Linked DNA regions of Homo sapiens: regions 2 and 3 are each reported to be linked to region 1. Evidence: microRNA targets listed by miRTarBase, many of them from high-throughput screens and not tested one by one. Region 1 holds a microRNA gene; each other region holds the end of a gene's coding sequence.

Evidence for each region. The annotated mature microRNA hsa-miR-6829-5p reads UGGGCUGCUGAGAAGGGGCA and lies in region 1 at 2,722-2,741, shown strand. An mRNA with a match to its seed (bases 2 to 7 or 8) in the 3' UTR can be bound and repressed. Matches are read on the target gene's strand: a 7mer-m8 pairs with bases 2 to 8, a 7mer-A1 pairs with bases 2 to 7 and ends in A, and an 8mer does both.
Region 2: the mRNA of INAFM1 is a reported target of hsa-miR-6829-5p. Seed matches in the 3' UTR shown: 7mer-A1 at 3,001-3,007.
Region 3: the mRNA of AKT1S1 is a reported target of hsa-miR-6829-5p. Seed matches in the 3' UTR shown: 7mer-A1 at 3,683-3,689.

The regions. Positions count from the first base shown.
Region 1 is chr3:195,881,112-195,885,111 of GRCh38, reverse strand. MIR6829 (microRNA 6829) reads left to right here and starts at 2,717; the gene lies at 2,717-2,783. It overlaps TNK2 (tyrosine kinase non receptor 2), which reads left to right. Exons shown (of 16, transcript NM_001382273.1): 4 at 79-300; 5 at 1,803-1,955; 6 at 2,784-3,061. RefSeq lists an enhancer at 1,326-1,826.
Region 2 is chr19:47,272,629-47,279,916 of GRCh38, forward strand. It overlaps INAFM1 (InaF motif containing 1), which reads left to right and starts at 2,257. Exons shown (of 1, transcript NM_178511.6): 1 at 2,257-3,095. The coding sequence starts at 2,292. The coding sequence ends at 2,720. It also overlaps a transcript of CCDC9 not described here. RefSeq lists silencers at 639-948, 1,559-1,818, 2,179-2,628 and a cis regulatory region at 5,768-5,905.
Region 3 is chr19:49,866,616-49,873,439 of GRCh38, reverse strand. AKT1S1 (AKT1 substrate 1) reads left to right here. Exons shown (of 5, transcript NM_001098633.4): 2 at 138-523; 3 at 1,551-1,628; 4 at 1,724-1,893; 5 at 3,380-4,401. The coding sequence starts at 145. The coding sequence ends at 3,523. It overlaps PNKP (polynucleotide kinase 3'-phosphatase), which reads left to right and starts at 5,864. Exons shown (of 17, transcript NM_007254.4): 1 at 5,864-5,971; 2 at 6,223-6,386. The coding sequence starts at 6,236. RefSeq lists enhancers at 2,781-3,428, 5,627-6,408, 6,409-6,824 and silencers at 3,344-3,653, 5,728-6,027, 6,098-6,467.

The DNA.
Region 1 (4,000 bases):
GTGGACCCAGCGGGGTGGGACTGAGTGACTGACCCTGGGGTGTTGGATTCCATCTGGCCCCCGGCTGCCTTCAAACAGGTGTTCAGTGGAAAGCGACTGGAGGCTGAGTTCCCACCTCATCACTCTCAGAGCACCTTCCGGAAGACCTCGCCCGCCCCTGGGGGCCCAGCAGGGGAGGGGCCCCTGCAGAGCCTCACCTGCCTCATTGGGGAGAAGGACCTGCGCCTCCTGGAGAAGCTGGGTGATGGTTCCTTTGGCGTGGTGCGCAGGGGCGAGTGGGACGCGCCCTCAGGGAAGACGGTGAGCTCTCTGTGTCCTGCCAGCGCAGCAGAGGCATGGGACCCGGGGCTGGTAGTGGCTCTTCTGCCCCCAACCAGGGTGTGGATGGGACTGGGGATGCGTCACAGTGTGGCTCATCCCAGAGTCCGTGCTCAGGATTTTTGGGGTTTTATTTATTTATTTATTTTTGAGATGGAGTCTCGCTCTGTCGCCCAGGCTGGAGTGCAGTAGGCACGATCTCGGCTTCCTGCAACCTCCACTTTCCGGGTTCAAGCAATCCTCCTGCCTCAGCCTCCTGAGTAGCTGGGATTACAGGCATGCACCACCACACTCAGTTAATTTTTGTATTTTTAGTAGAGACGGGGTTTCACCATGTTGGCCAGGCTGGTCTCGAACTCCTGACCTCAGATGATCTGCCCACTTTAGCCTCCCAAAGTGCTTGGATTACAGGTGTGAGCCACCACGTCCAGCCCATGCTCAGGTTTAACTAAGCACATTTATTATTTCAACTATAAAAATAATTTATTATAAAAGTTTGGAAAGTATTTGAAAAACAAGAAAAAAAAAATCGCCTGTAATCCCACCACTCAGAGGAAGCCGAGCCTCTTCCTCCCACTTTAGGTATTTTGTTGGATTTAGTTAAGATACAAATTCTGGATACAGCTTTTAAAATCTTGTTCTTTCTTCTCGGCGTTGCATTTAACATTTTCCCCTCAGGGATAACGTGTCACCACAGCATACAGTTCTGGTGTGACTGTTTCCTGTGCAGCAGCCGTGTCCTTACTGCTCAGATCACGTGCGGTGCATTCCCAGCACCTCAGAGGGCTCCTCATTCTCCGTCCACTCAGTGCGTCCTTCTCCCGGGGAAGCCGCTGTCACTCAGTGCATCCTTCTCCCGGGGAAGCCGCTGTGCAGACTTCCAGCTCCACAGCTTTGTTTTTGGCATTACATTTACAGCATTTTCCTTCTACAGCAAAACACCTTTTAATATTCCATTTTATGACCAGCCTGAGCAATATGGAGAAACCCCATCTCTACTAAAAATACAAAATTAGCCAGGCGTGGTGGCACCTGCCTGTAATCCCAGCTACTCAGGAGGCTGAGGCAGGAGAATCACTTGAACCCGGGAGGCAGAGGTTGCAGTGAGCTGAGATCACGTCACTGCATTCCAGCCTGGGCGACAAGAGCGAGACTGTCTCAAAAAAAAAAATTCCATTTTATAACATTTGAATATTCTCTCATCATACTGGTTATCTCTTACTTTTTGGTTGGTATTTAAGCCCGGCATTCCCCCAGGAAGGGGAGGTGTGGCCGACGATGGCTCCTGAGGGCCAGCCGTCTGCCCTTCTCCAGCCAGGCCTCACGCAGAGCACGTAAGCCCAGGCACTGGTGACATGCTTACCCACCCAGATGAGGAGCTCACAGGCAGGGATCGTTGAGCCGAGTTGGAGGGTGGAGCAGGTTGGCTCCGCGTGTCTGGGACCTGGCAAGTCCTGAGTCCTTGCAAATCCCGCTCTGGGCAGGTGAGTGTGGCTGTGAAGTGCCTGAAGCCCGATGTCCTGAGCCAGCCAGAAGCCATGGACGACTTCATCCGGGAGGTCAATGCCATGCACTCGCTCGACCACCGAAACCTCATCCGCCTCTACGGGGTGGTGCTCACGCCGCCCATGAAGATGGTGAGTACTGCGGGCGGGAGGGGGCGGGCAGGGAGAGGGCTCCGGTCCCATATGTGTGGTTCGGTTCCTCTCTCCATCCTAAGGTCAGAGGCGCCCTAGATCCTACTTTGGTCCCCCAACCTGATGGAGTAAAGGGGTCCACAGGGGCCCAGCCTGGTACGGGCTGTGTCTGCTGCGGTCCAGTCCGGGTCTGTCTCTGGATTTTGCTGGTGCTCAGTGTCAAGAGAGTTACTCCCATGGGAGGGGCTGGCCACTGAGTTTAATTTGGGGAATTTATGTTTTATTTATCTATTTATTTTGAGATGGAGTCTCACTTTGTCGCCCAGGCTGGAGTGCAATGGCATGATCTAGGCTCACTGCAACCTCGGCCTCCTGGGTTCACGCGATATTCCTGCCTCAGGCTTCCAAGTAGCTGGGATTACAGCCGTGCGCTACCATGCCTGGCTAATTTTTGTATTTTTAGTAGAGACGGGGTTTCACCATGTTGGCCAGGCTGGTCTCAAACTCCTGACCTCAAATGATCCACCCACCTCGGCCTCCCAAAGTGCTGGGATTACAGGCGTGAGCCACCACGTCCAGCTGAGTTTTGGAATTTCTAGCCACTGCCTCTTTGGGCTCCTTCTCTCTAGGCATCAGTTTCCCAAATTGCCTCGAGGGAGAGGCCTGAGAAACTGCAGGACTCCTAGAGGTCCCCAGACAGCAGGCCAGGAAGGTGCGTGCAGCCTGGCTCTGGAAAGCCTTCAGGAAGGGGACTGGGGGCCCAGCGTGGGCTGCTGAGAAGGGGCAGGGTCCTCCAGCTCATTCCTCCTGCCTCCTCCGTGGCCTCAGGTGACAGAGCTGGCACCTCTGGGATCGTTGTTGGACCGGCTACGTAAGCACCAGGGCCACTTCCTCCTGGGGACTCTGAGCCGCTACGCTGTGCAGGTGGCTGAGGGCATGGGCTACCTGGAGTCCAAGCGCTTTATTCACCGTGACCTGGCTGCCCGCAATCTGCTGTTGGCTACCCGCGACCTGGTCAAGATCGGGGACTTTGGGCTGATGCGAGCACTACCTCAGAATGACGACCATTACGTCATGCAGGAACATCGCAAGGTGCCCTTCGCCTGGTGAGGGGCAGGTGCTGCCAGCTCACAGAGTCCCTGCAGACCCAGGCCTCAAAGCTTCTGGGGCTTTCTGGACCCACCACAGCCCCTGGTTTTGCTTGGGCCTGCCCTTGTCTGTTCTAAGCCTGGGGTGCCCTCCTTTGCACCCATTCGCTCACCATCCATCTAGGAATTCTTGAGGGCCCACGTGCCAGGGTCTGGGTGCTGGAAATCACAGGGATACATGCTGTGGGACTCTCCAAGGGGCTTTGCTGGGTGGGGTGATACGGGGATAGATGCTGTGTCCTCTCCAAGGGGCATTGTTGGGGGTCGTGTTTCAGGGATAGATCCTGTGTCCTCTCCAAGGGGCATTGCTGGCGGGGGGGTGTTATAGGGATAAATGCTGTGTCCTCTCCAAAGGGCGTTGCTGGGGGGGGGGTGTTACAAGGATAGATGCTGTGTCCTCTTCAAGGGGCATCGCTGGGGGGGTGTTACAGGGATAGATGCTGTGTCCTCTTCAAGGGGCATTGCTGGGGGGGGTGTTACAGGGATAGATGCCGTGTCCTCTCCAAGGGGCGTTGCTGGGGGGGGTGTTAGAGGGACAGATCCTGTGTCCTCTCCAAGGGGCATCGCTGGGGGCGGGTGTTACAGGGATAGATGCTGTGTCCTCTCCAAGGGGCACTGCTGGGGGGGTGTTACAGGGATAGATGCTGTGTCCTCTCCAAGGGGCACTGCTGGGGGGGTGTTAGAGGGACAGATCCTGTGTCCTCTTCAAGGGGCATTGCTGGCGGGTGGTGTTAGAGGGATAGACACTGTGTCCTCTCCAAGGGGCATCGCTGGGGGCGGGTGTTACAGGGATAGACGCTGTGTCCTCTCCAAGGGGCATTGCTGGGGGGGTGTTACAGGGATAGATGCTGTGTCCTCTCCAAGGGGCACTGCTGGGGGGGTGTTACAGGGATAGAT
Region 2 (7,288 bases), not on the chromosome of region 1:
GTGGTTGGCGTTGGTGTACTAGGGCAGGAGCTATAGGCAGACTACGAAATTTGAACTGGCTCGAAAAGGCCAAAGAGATGGGCAAGGGCAGAAAACTGGATTTAACTGTGGCTGGGATTAGAGTTCCGAGGTGCAACCTAGTGGGGCAAATTAGAATAGACATGCGTACCCGATCAGCATTTTGGGACCGACGAAGTGCGAGCAAGAGGCCAAGCCCCTCTCCACCTACACTCCGTAGGAGTAAGATTTCGAATCTCAGATGGCCTCCCCTTCCCCCAGAGTGGGATTAGGATTTTGGGGGCAGAGCCAAGGAAGGACTGGTTAGAATAGCAGGCGTTGGCGAAGGAAAGGGGAGGGCGGGTCCTCTAGGACTGGCTTGGTGGAGGTTGATGAAGGCCGTGAGATGGGGCGGGGGTGGGAGAGGACAGTTTGCAGCCTTGGGTGGCGCGGGGGCCCAGACCCTCTGTCTTGGGCCACTTGTTGGTCGGGAGCCAGATCTCGCCACACCCGCGTTTCCTCGATTGTAAACGGTTATGTTGGGAGTGTTTGCTGCTGCGTGGGTCCGCTGAGAGGATTAGTCTGGGCCCCGTAAACCGCTTAGCGCCGAGCCTGCTGTGGCAAGGGCTCGAACTGGATGAGAGACGTGGCTAGACGGGGGAGGGGTGCTGGGCCGGGGGGGAGGTGGGAAGACTGCTCCCCTCCGCTGACTCAGCCCCTTCTCTCCTCAGAGGCAGGCCCCGAAGGCCAGGAGACGGCGGAGATCACCGACTTCCAGAGGGTGCGTTTCTGCAAGGTGGTGGCGGCCCCTCCGCTGCCGGGGGCCGCTCGCTGACCGCGCCCGCCGGACCGCGGCCTCCGCGCTCTGCACTAACCTCCCACCGCCTCGCTCCTCTGTCCTCTGCTTCTGCCACACTCCAGCCAGGAGAGGGTTAAATCTAAGGGGGGAGGAGCCAGGGTCTGCGAGCCGGGCGGGGCCAGGGCAGTAGTCGGGTGCAGGCCCCACCAACGGGGGACGTCACGGCACTGGGACGGCTGGGACGCTTCCGCGTTAGTCTCCCATGGAGGCCCTGGGCGGCTCGAGCCAGTCTTCAGGCCGAATCTCCCGCCTCCAGGATTGCATCCGAGGCCTGGCAGCCGGTGACACTTCCGAAGGGCTTGAATTACTCGGGCGCCAGCCCTGTCGTATTAAACGCAGTGCTTCCGCTCACCCTTGAACTGTGTTTCTGGAGGGGGCAGGCTGGGTCGCTGTGCTTGGCGGGCTTTTCTGTGGCGGAAGAGGCGGAAGGAAGGGGTCTTCCTCCACCCTTCTGATCCGTCTTCCCTCCCCCCTCCCGCAGGCCTCCCCGAATTCCTGAAGACGCTGCTGGGAGGGGACTGAAGCTTCCCCGCCTTGATGGGGAGGGGGCGTGAGGAGGGGTTTATCTGGATTTCCAGGCTGTGTTCTTTCTACCCCAGAGCCTAGTCTGGACCCCTTGGCTCTAGGGAGAGGGAAAAGCTGACCGTTGGGGAGGAGCTGGGAGAAGGGGCGCGATTGCGGTGAGGGGCGGAGCTGGAACCTCGGGGCCTGAGGTGCTGAGGATACCTGAAAGCGGGCTGAGAGTGTGCTGGAGGAGGCGGGTCCCGCGGGGGCGGAGCTAGGCTGCCTGGGCGGGGCCGGAATCCTGACAGGCGGAGTTAGAGCGGGGGGCGGGGTCAGCGCGCGCGGGTGGGGCTCTGGCCATGGGCATGGGGCGGGGCCGTCAGCGGGGGCGTGGTCGGGGTGTCGCGCGGGAACCCGCGCGGGAGGAGAGCGGGGATTCCGGAACTAGAGTGTGGGAGCCAGAGGCCGTAGCGGGCAGGGCTCGAGCACTGGAGTAGAGCAGTCCGACAGGTAGAGAAGTGAGACTGGCTGCGGCACAGGGCGGGTTAGGGCTCCAGGCAGGGCTTGAGCGGGACGAGGGGGCGGGCTCCGAGGCGGGCTAGATGCCTGGGCTGGATGAAGTCCGAGTCTGGGAAGAGAACCGTGTTGTGGCGGGAGGAGGCGGTGATTGGGGTGGTGGGGCTAAGCGCGGGGGCGGGGCTGGAGCGAGGGGGGCGGGGTAGCACCTCCGCCTGTCGGTGGTGGGGCGGAGGCTGGAGGGGGTGGGCCTAGGATGCGGAGGCGGCAGCTCGCGTGGGGGCGTGACCATGCTGGCGGGGGCGGGGCCGGAGGCGGGCGGTTTAGAGAGCGGGGCGGTCTGCGGGGTGGGGGCGGGGCCTGGTGGGGGCGGGGCCTGTGCGGTCTGCGGCGCGGAGCCGAGTGGGCTGCGGGGATGCGGGGGACCAGCTGCGTGGGCGGCGGCGCCGAGAGCCCCGGAGGCGCGGGGCTGAGCGAGGGCCCGCGGGGGCGCTGGCTGCGCTTGGCTCCGGTATGCGCCTACTTCCTCTGCGTCTCGCTAGCTGCCGTGCTGCTCGCCGTGTACTACGGTCTCATCTGGGTACCCACGCGGTCTCCCGCGGCACCCGCCGGCCCACAGCCCAGCGCGCCGTCCCCTCCGTGTGCTGCCCGCCCGGGCGTGCCGCCTGTCCCGGCGCCCGCCGCTGCCTCCCTCTCCTGCCTCCTGGGAGTCCCCGGCGGGCCGCGACCCCAGCTCCAGCTGCCGCTGAGCCGCCGCCGCCGCTACAGCGACCCTGACCGCCGTCCGAGCCGCCAGACACCCAGAGAGACGCCAGAGGCCGCGGAGGGGCGAAGACCCGGGTAACTCTCCCTTCCACCCCAACCCGGATCGCCAGCCCTCGAGAGCTCTGTGCTCCACGCCGAGGATGCACCGTCTCTGGATTGGTCCGGCCTTCTTCCTAATGACATCGCTCAGCGTCTCTGGAGCCGTCATCCCGCGGAATGGGGGCCCAGGGGGTGTCAGCTCGGGGCCTTGCCTCTTGCAGCTACTCTGTGGTCAGGCCGGGTCCTCCACCATCAGGAAGATCCCATCCTGAGCTCTGTCTCCTGCCCCTCCTGCTGTGGGATGCTGAGCACAGAGCCCACAGCCCATCTGCCTCTTCACCTCCCTGAATCCGTGTCCATCTGCAATAAACGACAGCCTCGGCTGCCTCGTGCTGTGTCTGTCCTGTTGTCTGCAGAGATGCCTCCCCTCCCAAGTTTGTGTGGGAAAGACCTTCCTGGGGTGTGGCCTTTGTCTGTTTTGTCCCGGGTGGGCTGTTCCCCTTCCTTAAGGAGCTCTTCTTTTCTTGGAGTAGGGAGAAGCAGCTTAGCAGCAGCAGGGCCTTTGAAGGTCAGACAGTGGGAAGGGCTTCCCAGTTTTTTGTGTGCTTGGAGCAAAGGACAAATGTCTCTGGGGAGAAGCAGAGTGTCTGCCCTCGTGTTACAGCACAGGAGACAAGAGGAGGGGTGGGGTGATATAGGACAATAGCTGGGGTTCTGGGAATTGCTGTTGGTGTAATTATCATGTCAGGGACAGAGGCTGAATCACCCAGGGATCTCAGTTGGCTGCCGAGAGGGAACGATGCTGGCCCACTTCCTGGGGTCAGAGAGATGAGAGTGGATGGCGGCGGCGGTGGTGTTGCTTCTCAGCCTGTCTGGAAATCTCAGAGCCAATGACCAAAGCGCTGTGCTGCCTTGGAAGACTGGTGCAGCCTCTGGCCTGGGGCGCTGCTAGGAAACCAAGGCCGGGAAACTGAGGTCTAGCTTCTGGGCAAGGAGTCCGAGGTGGGGAGGCCATGTTCCATCCTGGAAGACTGAGGCCTGGCTCTGGACAGGGCCTGGGATCTGACATGCAGGAAGCTGGTTCCTGTCCAGCCTCCCCGCTTGAGCTGGAGGCCTTCCCAGGAGAGTGAGGCTGAGCATCTTCTCCCACGCTGTGGCTCCTGGAGATCTGTGGAGGTGGTTAGGAAGGTCAGCTGCTCTGCTCACCTCCCCTTTACCCCACCACCACTCCCCAGAGGGTGGTTGTGAAGGGGAATCTAGGAAGCCAGCACTTCTTTGTAGTCAGCATAGGTGATAGTTAGGGGCACTGACTGGGGCGAGACTACTCGGGTTCAAATTCCAGCTCCTCTCATTACAAACTGTGTGACTTTGGGCAGGTCACTTGACCTCTGTGTTTCTTTTTTTTTTTTTTTGAGATGGAGTCTTGCACTGTTGCCCAGGCTGGAGTGCAGTGGCATGATCTTGCTCACTGCAACCTCCGCCTTCTGGTTCAGGTGAGTCTCCTGCCTCAACCTCCTGAGTAGCTGGGATTACAGGTGCCCACCACCACACCCAGCTAATTTTTTTTTTGTATTTTTATTTTTTATTATTTTTATTTTGAGAGAAGTCTCACTCTTGTCCCCCACGCTTGAGTGCAATGGCTCGATCTCTGCTCACTGCAACCTCCACCTCCCAGGTTCAAACAATTCTCCTGTCTCTGCCTCTCAAGTAGCTGGGATTAAGGCCCCTGCCACCACGCCTGGCTAATTTTTGTATTTTTTAGTAGAGACGCGGTTTCACCATGTTGGCCAGGCTGGTCTCGAACTCCTGACCTCGTGATTTGCCCACTTGGGCCTCCCAAAATTCTGGGATTACAGGCATGAGCCACCACACCCGGCCTCTGTTTCTTTTTTTTTTTTTTCTTTTGAGACGGAGTCTTGCTCTGTCGCTCAGGCTGGAGTGCAGTGGTGCAATGTCGGCTCACTGCAAGCTCCGCCTCCTGGGTTCATGCCATTCTCCTGCTTCAGCCTCCTGAGTAGCTGGGATTACAGGCGCCCGCCACCACGCCTGGCTAATTTTTGTATTTTTAGTAGAGACGAGGTTTCATCATGTTGGTCAGGCTGGTCTCAAATTCCTGACCTAAGGTGATTTGCCCACTTTGGCCTCCCAAAGTGCTGGGATTACAGGCGTGAGCCACTGCACCCAGCCTTATAACTTATTTAAAATTTTTAAGCATTTTTTGTTTGTTTGTTTAATAGAAATGGGGTTTCACACTATGTTAGCCAGGCTGGTCTTGAACTCCTGGGCTTAAGTGATTTTCCTACCTTGGCTTCCCAAAGCCCTGGAATTATAGGCATGAGCCACTGTGCCTGGCCCTGCCTCTGTGGTTCTGTAGAATGAAGATGCTAATGGTACTTCTTCATAGACTTGCTCTGAGGAATAAATAAACTGGTGATCTCAAGCCCTGAGAACGATGTCACATGTTCTCTCTCTCCACCACCTCTGTCCCTCAGGGTTTAAAAGCCCCAGCTGGGATCCTCTGGGGATAGCAAGTCAGTCCAAAGCCCTGGCCACCAGCAAATGGTGAGTTTGAGGGAGGGGCCTCTCCATTTCGGTTCCCACTGGCCCCCCTCTCTTTGGTTTTCATCTCTCTTCTCCCAGCCCCATTTTTTCCTACTCTTTCGTTTCCTTGTTGCTGTGTGTCCTGGCTCTTTTCTCTTTCTGTGTTTGTCTCTCTGCGTCTCAGTCTTTCTGTGTCCTGTTTATCTCTCTGGTGTCTCTTGGTATTGTTTCTCTCTCCCACTCTGTATGTCTCTGACTCATTCTGCTCATTCTGTGTCCTCCCTATTGCTCTCTGTCCCCAGCTCGTTCTTTTTTTTTTTTTTTTTTTTTTAGATGGAGTCTTGCTCTATTACCCAGGCTGGAGTGCAGTGGCGGTGGGATTACAGGCGCCCACCACCATGCCCGTATAATTTTTGTATTTTTAATAGAGAGAGGGTTTCACCAGAGTGGCCAGGCTAGTCTTGAACTCCTGACCTCAAGTGAGCTTCCCGCCTCGGCCTCCCAAAGTGCTGGGATTACAGGCGTGAGACACTGTGCCCAGCCCCAGCTGATTCTCTTTCTTCTCTCCTCCACACTTATCTTACCCCAACACTTTCTTCCACCTTGCTCCCCTTCCCCTGCCCCCGCACCCCACAGCTTCCAGGTCCCTAGTCTCAGTGTCCCCTGTCTCCTTCCCTTTATCTCTTCCTTTTCTCCTCCTATTTCTCTTGGTTTCTCTTTTGGTCTCCATTGTTTAATCTTCCTTTTAACAAATATTTTTTGAGGCTGGGCACAGTGGTTCTTGCTTGTAATCTCAGCACTTTGGGAGGCCAAAGCCAGAGGATCACTTGAGGCCAGAAGTTAGAGACCAGTCTGTGTAACACAGCAAGACTTCATCTGGACAAAAAATTAAAAAATTAGCTGGGTGTGGTGGTGCATGCCTGTAGTCCCAACTACTCAGGAGGCTGAGAGGAGAGGATTGCTTGAGTCCAGGAGGTCGAGGCTGCAGTGAGCTATGATTGCACTACTTCACTCCAGCCTGGGAAACAGCAAGATCCTGTCTCTAAAAAACTAAAAAAACAACCCACCCAAAACCCACAATTATTTTTTGAGCATCTGCTGTGTGCCAAAGCTTATTTTAAACACTGGAGACACAGGAGTGAATAAAACAGGCAAAAATTCCTGCTCTCGGCTGGGCGTGATGGCTCATGCCTGTAACCCCAGCACTTTGGGAGGCCAAAGCAGGAGGATCACTTGAGGTCATGAGTTTGCGACCATCCTGAACAACATAGTGAGATCCTGTCTCTACAAAAAATACAAAAATTAGCCGGGCATGGTGGTGCATGCCTTGTAGTCCCAGCTACTCGGGAGGCTGAGGTGAGAGGATTGCTTGGAGGTCAAGGTTGCAGTGAGCTGTGACTGTACCACCGCACTCCAGCCTGGGCAAGAGAGCAAGACCCTGTCTCAAAAAAAAAAAAATTCCTGCTCTCAATGGAACTGAATATTAGTGGGAACACAGACAAGAAATTCAGTTAATAGCCGGGTGCGGTGGCTCATGCCTGTAATCCCAGCACTTTGAGAGACCTAGGAGGGCGGATCACCTGAAGTCAGGAGTTCCAGACCAGCCTGGCCAACATGGTGAAACCCCGTCTCTACTAAAAATACAAAAATTAGTTGGGCGTGGTGGTGGGTGCCTGTAATCACATCTACTTGGGAGGCTGAGGCAGGAGAATTGCTTGAATCCAGGATGGGGAAGTTGCAGTGAGCCAAGGTTGCACCACTACATTCCAGCCTGGGTGACAGAGTGAGACTCTGTCTCAAAGAAAAAAAAAAAAAATTCCTGTTCTTAATGGAACTAAATATTAGCGGGGACAAAGACAAGAAATGTGATTCATAACTTTGAGTGAAAGCAGGGTAAGGGTGATGGGGATGATGGAGGGTGTGGTTACTGGGTAGAAGCCCAAGACTGGTGAGGGTGAGGCTGGCAGGTCTCTGGGGGCTGAGGGAACAGTAAGTGCAAAAACCTTCGGGGTGGTGTGCCTGGCTTGTTGAAGGAATAGCGAAGAGGCCAGAGTGGCTGAAGCAAGA
Region 3 (6,824 bases), not on the chromosome of region 1:
GAGGACACACAGCACCGCTGGGACAAGGTGGGTGGAGGGTGGTGAGTGCCATCCAGGGGACGGGCGGGCACTCTGAGTGGGTGGCGATGATGTAGGCCGCCAAGCCTCAGCCCCCTCTGTCCTGCTCTGGCCCGCAGGGCGCGGATGGCGTCGGGGCGCCCCGAGGAGCTGTGGGAGGCCGTGGTGGGGGCCGCTGAGCGCTTCCGGGCCCGGACTGGCACGGAGCTGGTGCTGCTGACCGCGGCCCCGCCGCCACCACCCCGCCCGGGCCCCTGTGCCTATGCTGCCCATGGTCGAGGAGCCCTGGCGGAGGCAGCGCGCCGTTGCCTCCACGACATCGCACTGGCCCACAGGGCTGCCACTGCTGCTCGGCCTCCTGCGCCCCCACCAGCACCACAGCCACCCAGTCCCACACCCAGCCCACCCCGGCCTACCCTGGCCAGAGAGGACAACGAGGAGGACGAGGATGAGCCCACAGAGACAGAGACCTCCGGGGAGCAGCTGGGCATTAGTGATAATGGAGGTGAGAGGGTGGGGGCAGGGGCGGGTGCGGCCCAGCGCTTGAGGTGCCCGCAGGAGGCTTTGTCGGGGTGGGGGCCTGCTTAGCCCAGAGTACTTCTACAGAAGTGCAGTCTCAGGACCCCAGAGCCAGACAGGCTTGCCTGGGGCTTGCTGTGTGATCTAAAGCCAGTCCCTTCCCTGCTCTGAGCCTTACTGGTCCTGGGGCCAGCTCTGTGCTGGGAGTGGTGGGCACAAGGACACAGAGCAGGCTCGGGCTTTTTTCTCAAGGGGCTCCCGGTCTAGCCAAGGAACTGGAGTCCCGGTGGGGGTTGGGAGGCTCTGGGGCAGGTCATGGGTAGAACCAGAGTCGTTTCCACAACGCCTGGGAGGCCAAGCAGGAGTTAAAGAGTTGTCTGGGATGCAGCCAACATCTGAGGAAGCCAGGGAGGGAGCAGCCAGCTGTTTTGGGGGGAATTTGGGGGTCGGGCACTTCCCGGAGGCTGGACTGTAACGCTAGGGCTTTGCGGAGTTAGTAGGAGTTTGATCAGTCACTAGGAGGTCCTTGTTTGTTGTTATTACCAATGGCAGGCCTCCTCACCATTGCTGGAGAAAACCCGTGTAGGGTGAAGGGCAGGCATCCTGAGTTCAAATCCTGGTGGTGTCCCTTAGTAGCCATGGGACCTCGGGCAAGTGACTTAACTTCTCTGGGCCTCCAGGTCTCCATTTGTGAAACAGAGGTCATAGTCATTGCATGTTTCTCTAAGGCTGTGTTTTGAGTCACATTGTCCCGAACAGATCGTAGAGGTTTCATGTTAGCAGCCCGTTGTGTGCAGCTGAGAGGGTGGCAGATCCATAGAAACTGGGTTGGTTTTTGCCGATGACCAGGCAGGCTGCTAGAGGAAGTTGTTTTTGAGGTGAAGGAAATGGGTCTCAGAAGCTTCAGGGAGGTGGAGGTGGTGGCTGTGGCAGTGGCCGTGGCTGAGGAGGAGGACACATGGAGCATGGCTAGGTGCTGCCTGGCCTGGGCCTCTAACTCAGGTCATCCACAGGGCTCTTTGTGATGGATGAGGACGCCACCCTCCAGGACCTTCCCCCCTTCTGTGAGTCAGACCCCGAGAGTACAGATGGTGAGTGTCCCAGGCTGTTCCCCTCCCGACCTGAGGGCAGGCACACGGCCGACACAAAGGCAGGGACAGAAGCTGAAGTCCACCCTCTCTTTCAGATGGCAGCCTGAGCGAGGAGACCCCCGCCGGCCCCCCCACCTGCTCAGTGCCCCCAGCCTCAGCCCTACCCACACAGCAGTACGCCAAGTCCCTGCCTGTGTCTGTGCCCGTCTGGGGCTTCAAGGAGAAGAGGACAGAGGCGCGGTCATCAGATGAGGAGAATGGGCCGGTGAGGGGCAAATGTGGGGAGGTAGGGAGGGCAGCTGGAAGGGCTCTGAGCCGCCTCCTCCAGGAAGCCCTCCAGCATGGATGCTGCTTTCCACCCATAAGCTAACTGAATCCTCCCCTCAACCTCAAGAGGCGAGTTCTTGGACACGAGCCTTGCAGTTTTAACAATTGCAGCCTTACCATGTGTCCTAGTGCCTTATAGAGAAGGCCTCTCCTTTCCAGGAGCGTCTCTATTTATAGAACACCTGCTCTGGGCAAGGCACAGGTGTTTTGGCATGCCCTCCAGTGGAGAAACTGAGGCTTGGAGGGTTCAGATCACCTCCCATCCCCACCCTGCACATTCCTAGCCCTTTGCAGAATTTGTCCCACCCCCTGGTCCCCTGTTCACCCCTTGTAGCAACCCCTGTTTGAAGCTCCTGGGCTGGGCTCTGCTGGCCTAGGTGGGTCCTCCTCACCCTTCACTGAGCCTCCCTGAAGCAGAGGGGAAACTGAGGCACTGAGGGGACATGTGACTTCCCTGAGAGGCAGAGCTGGGACTGGAACCCAGGTGTGTTTCAGGAAGGAGCTGTGGGCTTTGAGGGAGGAGGCCTGGGTCCCCACAGTCCCCCCCTCAAGCCTCAGTGTCCTTATATGCAAACCAGCAGTCACAGTGGTGACCTTTTCTGTGCATCCTCCCTCAATGAAGCAGTGAGCACTGAAGACCAGGAACAGGGCCTGGTGCGGGCGGGGTCCACCTGCTGCTGCTCTCTGTGCTTGCGACTCATGGCAACACAGTTAATTGAATGCTCTGGCCTCTTGCGTGCTGTGCCCGGGGGCTGGTCTCCCACTGGGCTCAGGTCCAGTTCCTGATCTGGGTCTCCGGGTCCCATCCTGCGAGGGGACAGGCCCAGCTCCGGGTGACGGGGGCTGTAGTGGAGGCAGTACTAGGTGCCAGAACTGCAGGCTCCTTGGCGGGGGCTGACACAGCGAGGGATCTTTTCTGTAGCGCAGTGGCCACATGATAAGGCAGTAACAGCTGATTATCTCAGCCCTCACAGAGACCCTGTTATCCGCCCCATTTTTCAGAAGGGGAGACTGAGGCCTAGGGAAGCAAAACCTCTTGCTCATAGTTTGTCAGCGGCAGAGGTCTGATTGGAACATGACTGAAACCCCAGCCCAGATCCTCAGACATGAGACGGTGCACTCAGCCTTAATGGCTAGCAGGCAACAGCACTTCCACTGTGTAGGAAGCAATGTCCTAGGCCAAGAAGGGGAGAGGGAGAGGGGCAGGTAGGCTTCGTGGAGGAGGTGTCTGAACCGGGTAGAAGGGTTCCTACGTGGAGCAAGACGGGGAGGGGCACTGCTGGCAGTGGGCATCGCAGGGCACAGGTGGCAGGGCAGGGACGTGCTAGAAGTGGGCTTGGAGCCCGGGTGCACCCCTGGACCGCGTGTGGGTGCAGGGGGATTGCCCTGCCGGCGCTGACCTCGCCCCGTCGCCGTCCCCGCAGCCCTCTTCGCCCGACCTGGACCGCATCGCGGCGAGCATGCGCGCGCTGGTGCTGCGAGAGGCCGAGGACACCCAGGTCTTCGGGGACCTGCCACGGCCGCGGCTTAACACCAGCGACTTCCAGAAGCTGAAGCGGAAATATTGAAGTCCAGGGAGGGAGCGCCCCGGGCCGCGTCCGCCCCGTCCCACACTACGCCCCCGCCCCACTCCCGGGGCCTGCTAATCTGAGGCCGATCCGGGACCGGCCTCCTTGCGTCTCCCATTCCCAAGATTGTCCCGCCTCTGCCAATCCCCGCCGTCCTTCCAGCCCACGACCTGCCGCGCCGAGGAGCGGCATCTGTCCCGTTTCCCGATTGGGTCTGTCGTCTCTCTCCGCCTAGCGACAGATTCCTTCTATTAAGGGATTGGCTCGCTGAGTTCTAAGCTCTAAATGGGTCAACTCCTTTGTTTTCCGCCTAGCGACAAGGGATTTGCTCGCACGGCATTGGCTCCATCCCCTAGTCGCTGGACAGCTCTTTTTTTGATTGGCTCAAATCCTGTAAAGGGCTTGACCAGTCTCTACATAGTCACCGTCCGCTTTTCCTGAGTTCTCCCTCCCAATTGGCTCCAGCTTCCTGGGGGCGTGGCCAAGCCCTCCTCTTCCCAGAATTGGCCCGGGGCCTTCAATTTACGTTCTTTACACTACGGGGACTGGGGTCGTCTTTGCCCACGTCCCGACAACTTGTTCCCTGACCCCCTCAGGGATGGCCCCAAACTGTCCCTGCCTCTGGCACCCCCTTTCATTGGTTCCATCCATCCCCACAACAGCCTGCCAATCGAAGCCCGTCCCTGCATCCAGGATGGTACCAGCTCCCGCCCCTCGCCCCCCACCTCCACAGGTGCCTTAAAGGGCCCTCGTCCACCCAAGGTGGGGGGCAGGGGCCCTCACTCTCCGGCCCTGGTGTGGGGGAGAGAGTGAGGGGTTGGGGGATCGGCAGTTGGGAGGGGCGCTCTGAGATTAAAGAGTTTTACCTCTGAGATAAATGTGAAGTGTGTTGTGAGTGTTCATTCAACATTTTCTGAAACCGAATGGCAGCGTCTGATTATCAGTGAATAGCTGGGGGTTGGAATTACTGTGCCCATTTTATTTACTTTTTTGAGACAGGGTCCCACTCTCGCCCAGGTTCAAGCGATTCTCCTGCCTCAACCTCCCGAGTAGCTGGGATTACGCGCCACTGCCGCCCGGGTAATTTTTGTATTTTCAGTAGAAACAGGGTTTCATCATGTTGGTCAGGATGGTCTTGAACTCCTGACCTCAAATGATCCACCCGCCTTGGCCTCCCAAAGTGCTGGGATTACAGGCGTGAGCCACGGCGCCTGGCTTTGTGCCCATTTTATAGATATGAAGACACAGGTTCATGGGGTGGAGGAGAGCATCCCAGTCTTATGTGACCATGGAACCCAATCTTGAGGAGGTGAGTGTTGGAGACAGAGCCCACATATTCACCAGCAAAGCCAGGAACTCCAGCCGGGAGTCTTCTATTATAAAAGGACTGGAGCAACTGGGCTTGGTGCCTCACGCCTATAAGCCCAACACGCTGGGAGGCCAAGGCGGGAGGATCACATGACACCAGGAGGTCGAGATCAGCCTGGGCAGCACAGTGAGACCCCTTCTCCAAAGGGAAAAAAAAATGGCTGGAGGTTAGAAAGCAGGTGGAACCTCGTCCGAAATTAGGACTAGGTAAACGTAGTCCCACCAGACCACTACCGAAAGAATGCTAACACTAAATAAGACTTAAACGGATCTGAGCACTTTGGGAGGCCGAGGTGGGCGGATCACGAGATCAGGAGATCGAGACCGTCCTGGCTAACACGGTGAAACCCCGTCTCTACTCAAAATACAAAAAATTAGCTGGGCGTGGTGGCGGGCGCCTGTAGTCCCAGCTACTCGGGAGGCTGAGACAGGAGAATGGCGTCAACCCGGGAGGCGGAGCTTGCAGGTGAGCCGAGATCGCGCCACTGCACTCCAGCCTGGGCGACAGAGTGAGACTCCGTCTCAAAAAAAAAAAAAAAAAAAGACTTAAACAGGGCTCACTACCACCCATTTTTTAAAGCTTTTGTCACGTGTTAGCTCCTTTAATCGTCATGGTAACCCCACGAAGCGGAAACGATTATCCTTTTTATAGATGAGGAAACTAGAACATCGAGGGTGAAGCCAAAGAAGGACTTAGGGGCGCTGTCGGGGGCGGAGGTTTCCTCGACTGACAATGACCATCAGATGGGAAAAAAATCTTCCTCCCTGGGATGAAAATTAGAAGTCAAGGTGGAAAGAGGCAAATCTGCTAACGGAGGATCCAGTCCCCGCTACCGGCCTGAGCCTCGCGTTGCAGCAAGAGAGATGAAGGTCAGGGCTGCCGAGAGACCCTGGGGGCCGGGAGTCGGGGAAGGGGCGTGGCTGCTGTGGGAGGAGGCCAGGCCCCGCCCCCCACCCACGAGGGGACGAGTCATTTCCGTCCGCCGAGGAACCGACCGCCGCCGGCCGGGTTGCAGGCGGGGCACCTCGGGCAGGACCTCCCTGGTCGGAAGTGGCCGTGAGCCCAAGCCGCGGTCCCGGGTGAGTACGGGGCGGGGCGGAGGCATGTGCGAGGCTCTCTGCCTGTACGCTGGAAAGTGGGGATTGCAACTCGGGGAGGGATGGAGCACGCGTCGTCGCCTGGGAAACGGGTCGACCCGCGGAAGGCGAGCGGGTGGGACTTCCGGAGCAGTTAATGGTGGGGAAACTTTCTAGTGGATGTGGGAGGAGGCGGGACTTCCTGCAGCAAATTGGGGCTGTGCGCCGCTCAAGCCCGTTTACCTGCTCCCCAGGCCGGCACCCAGGATGGGCGAGGTGGAGGCCCCGGGCCGCTTGTGGCTCGAGAGCCCCCCTGGGGGAGCGCCCCCCATCTTCCTGCCCTCGGACGGGCAAGCCCTGGTCCTGGGCAGGGGACCCCTGACCCAGGTTACGGACCGGAAGTGCTCCAGAACTCAAGGTGAGCGGGGCCTGAGCTGGAGGGGGTGTGGCCTGCTGCAAAAGCGGGAACAATCCAGAGGGACGCTTGGCTGCTACGCGGGATTGCAGTGGTGCAGCCAGCCCCGAAGTCGGAAGGTGCTCTCTAGGGAGTACAGGAAGATAAAGTTTGTGCTTGATTTAGAATTAGCTAGATCCTTTGGGGGAGAGGGGATCGAGCCGATTTAGGGAGGATGTTCACTGCGCGGATGATGCTCAGGCCATCGGGAAATCCAGAAACAGGCGACGACCTTCGTCAAGAGAAAAATGATCCTGTGGAGAAAAGTAAATGTCGCTAGGTTGGGATGGATGGTAACAGGCCAAGCCCCGGACCTATATCTAGCCACATTTTTTGTCAAGGAGGAAACCAATTCTGTAGAGAAAAGTACCTCCCTGTCCCTTGCAAGGACCAGTGTCAGGC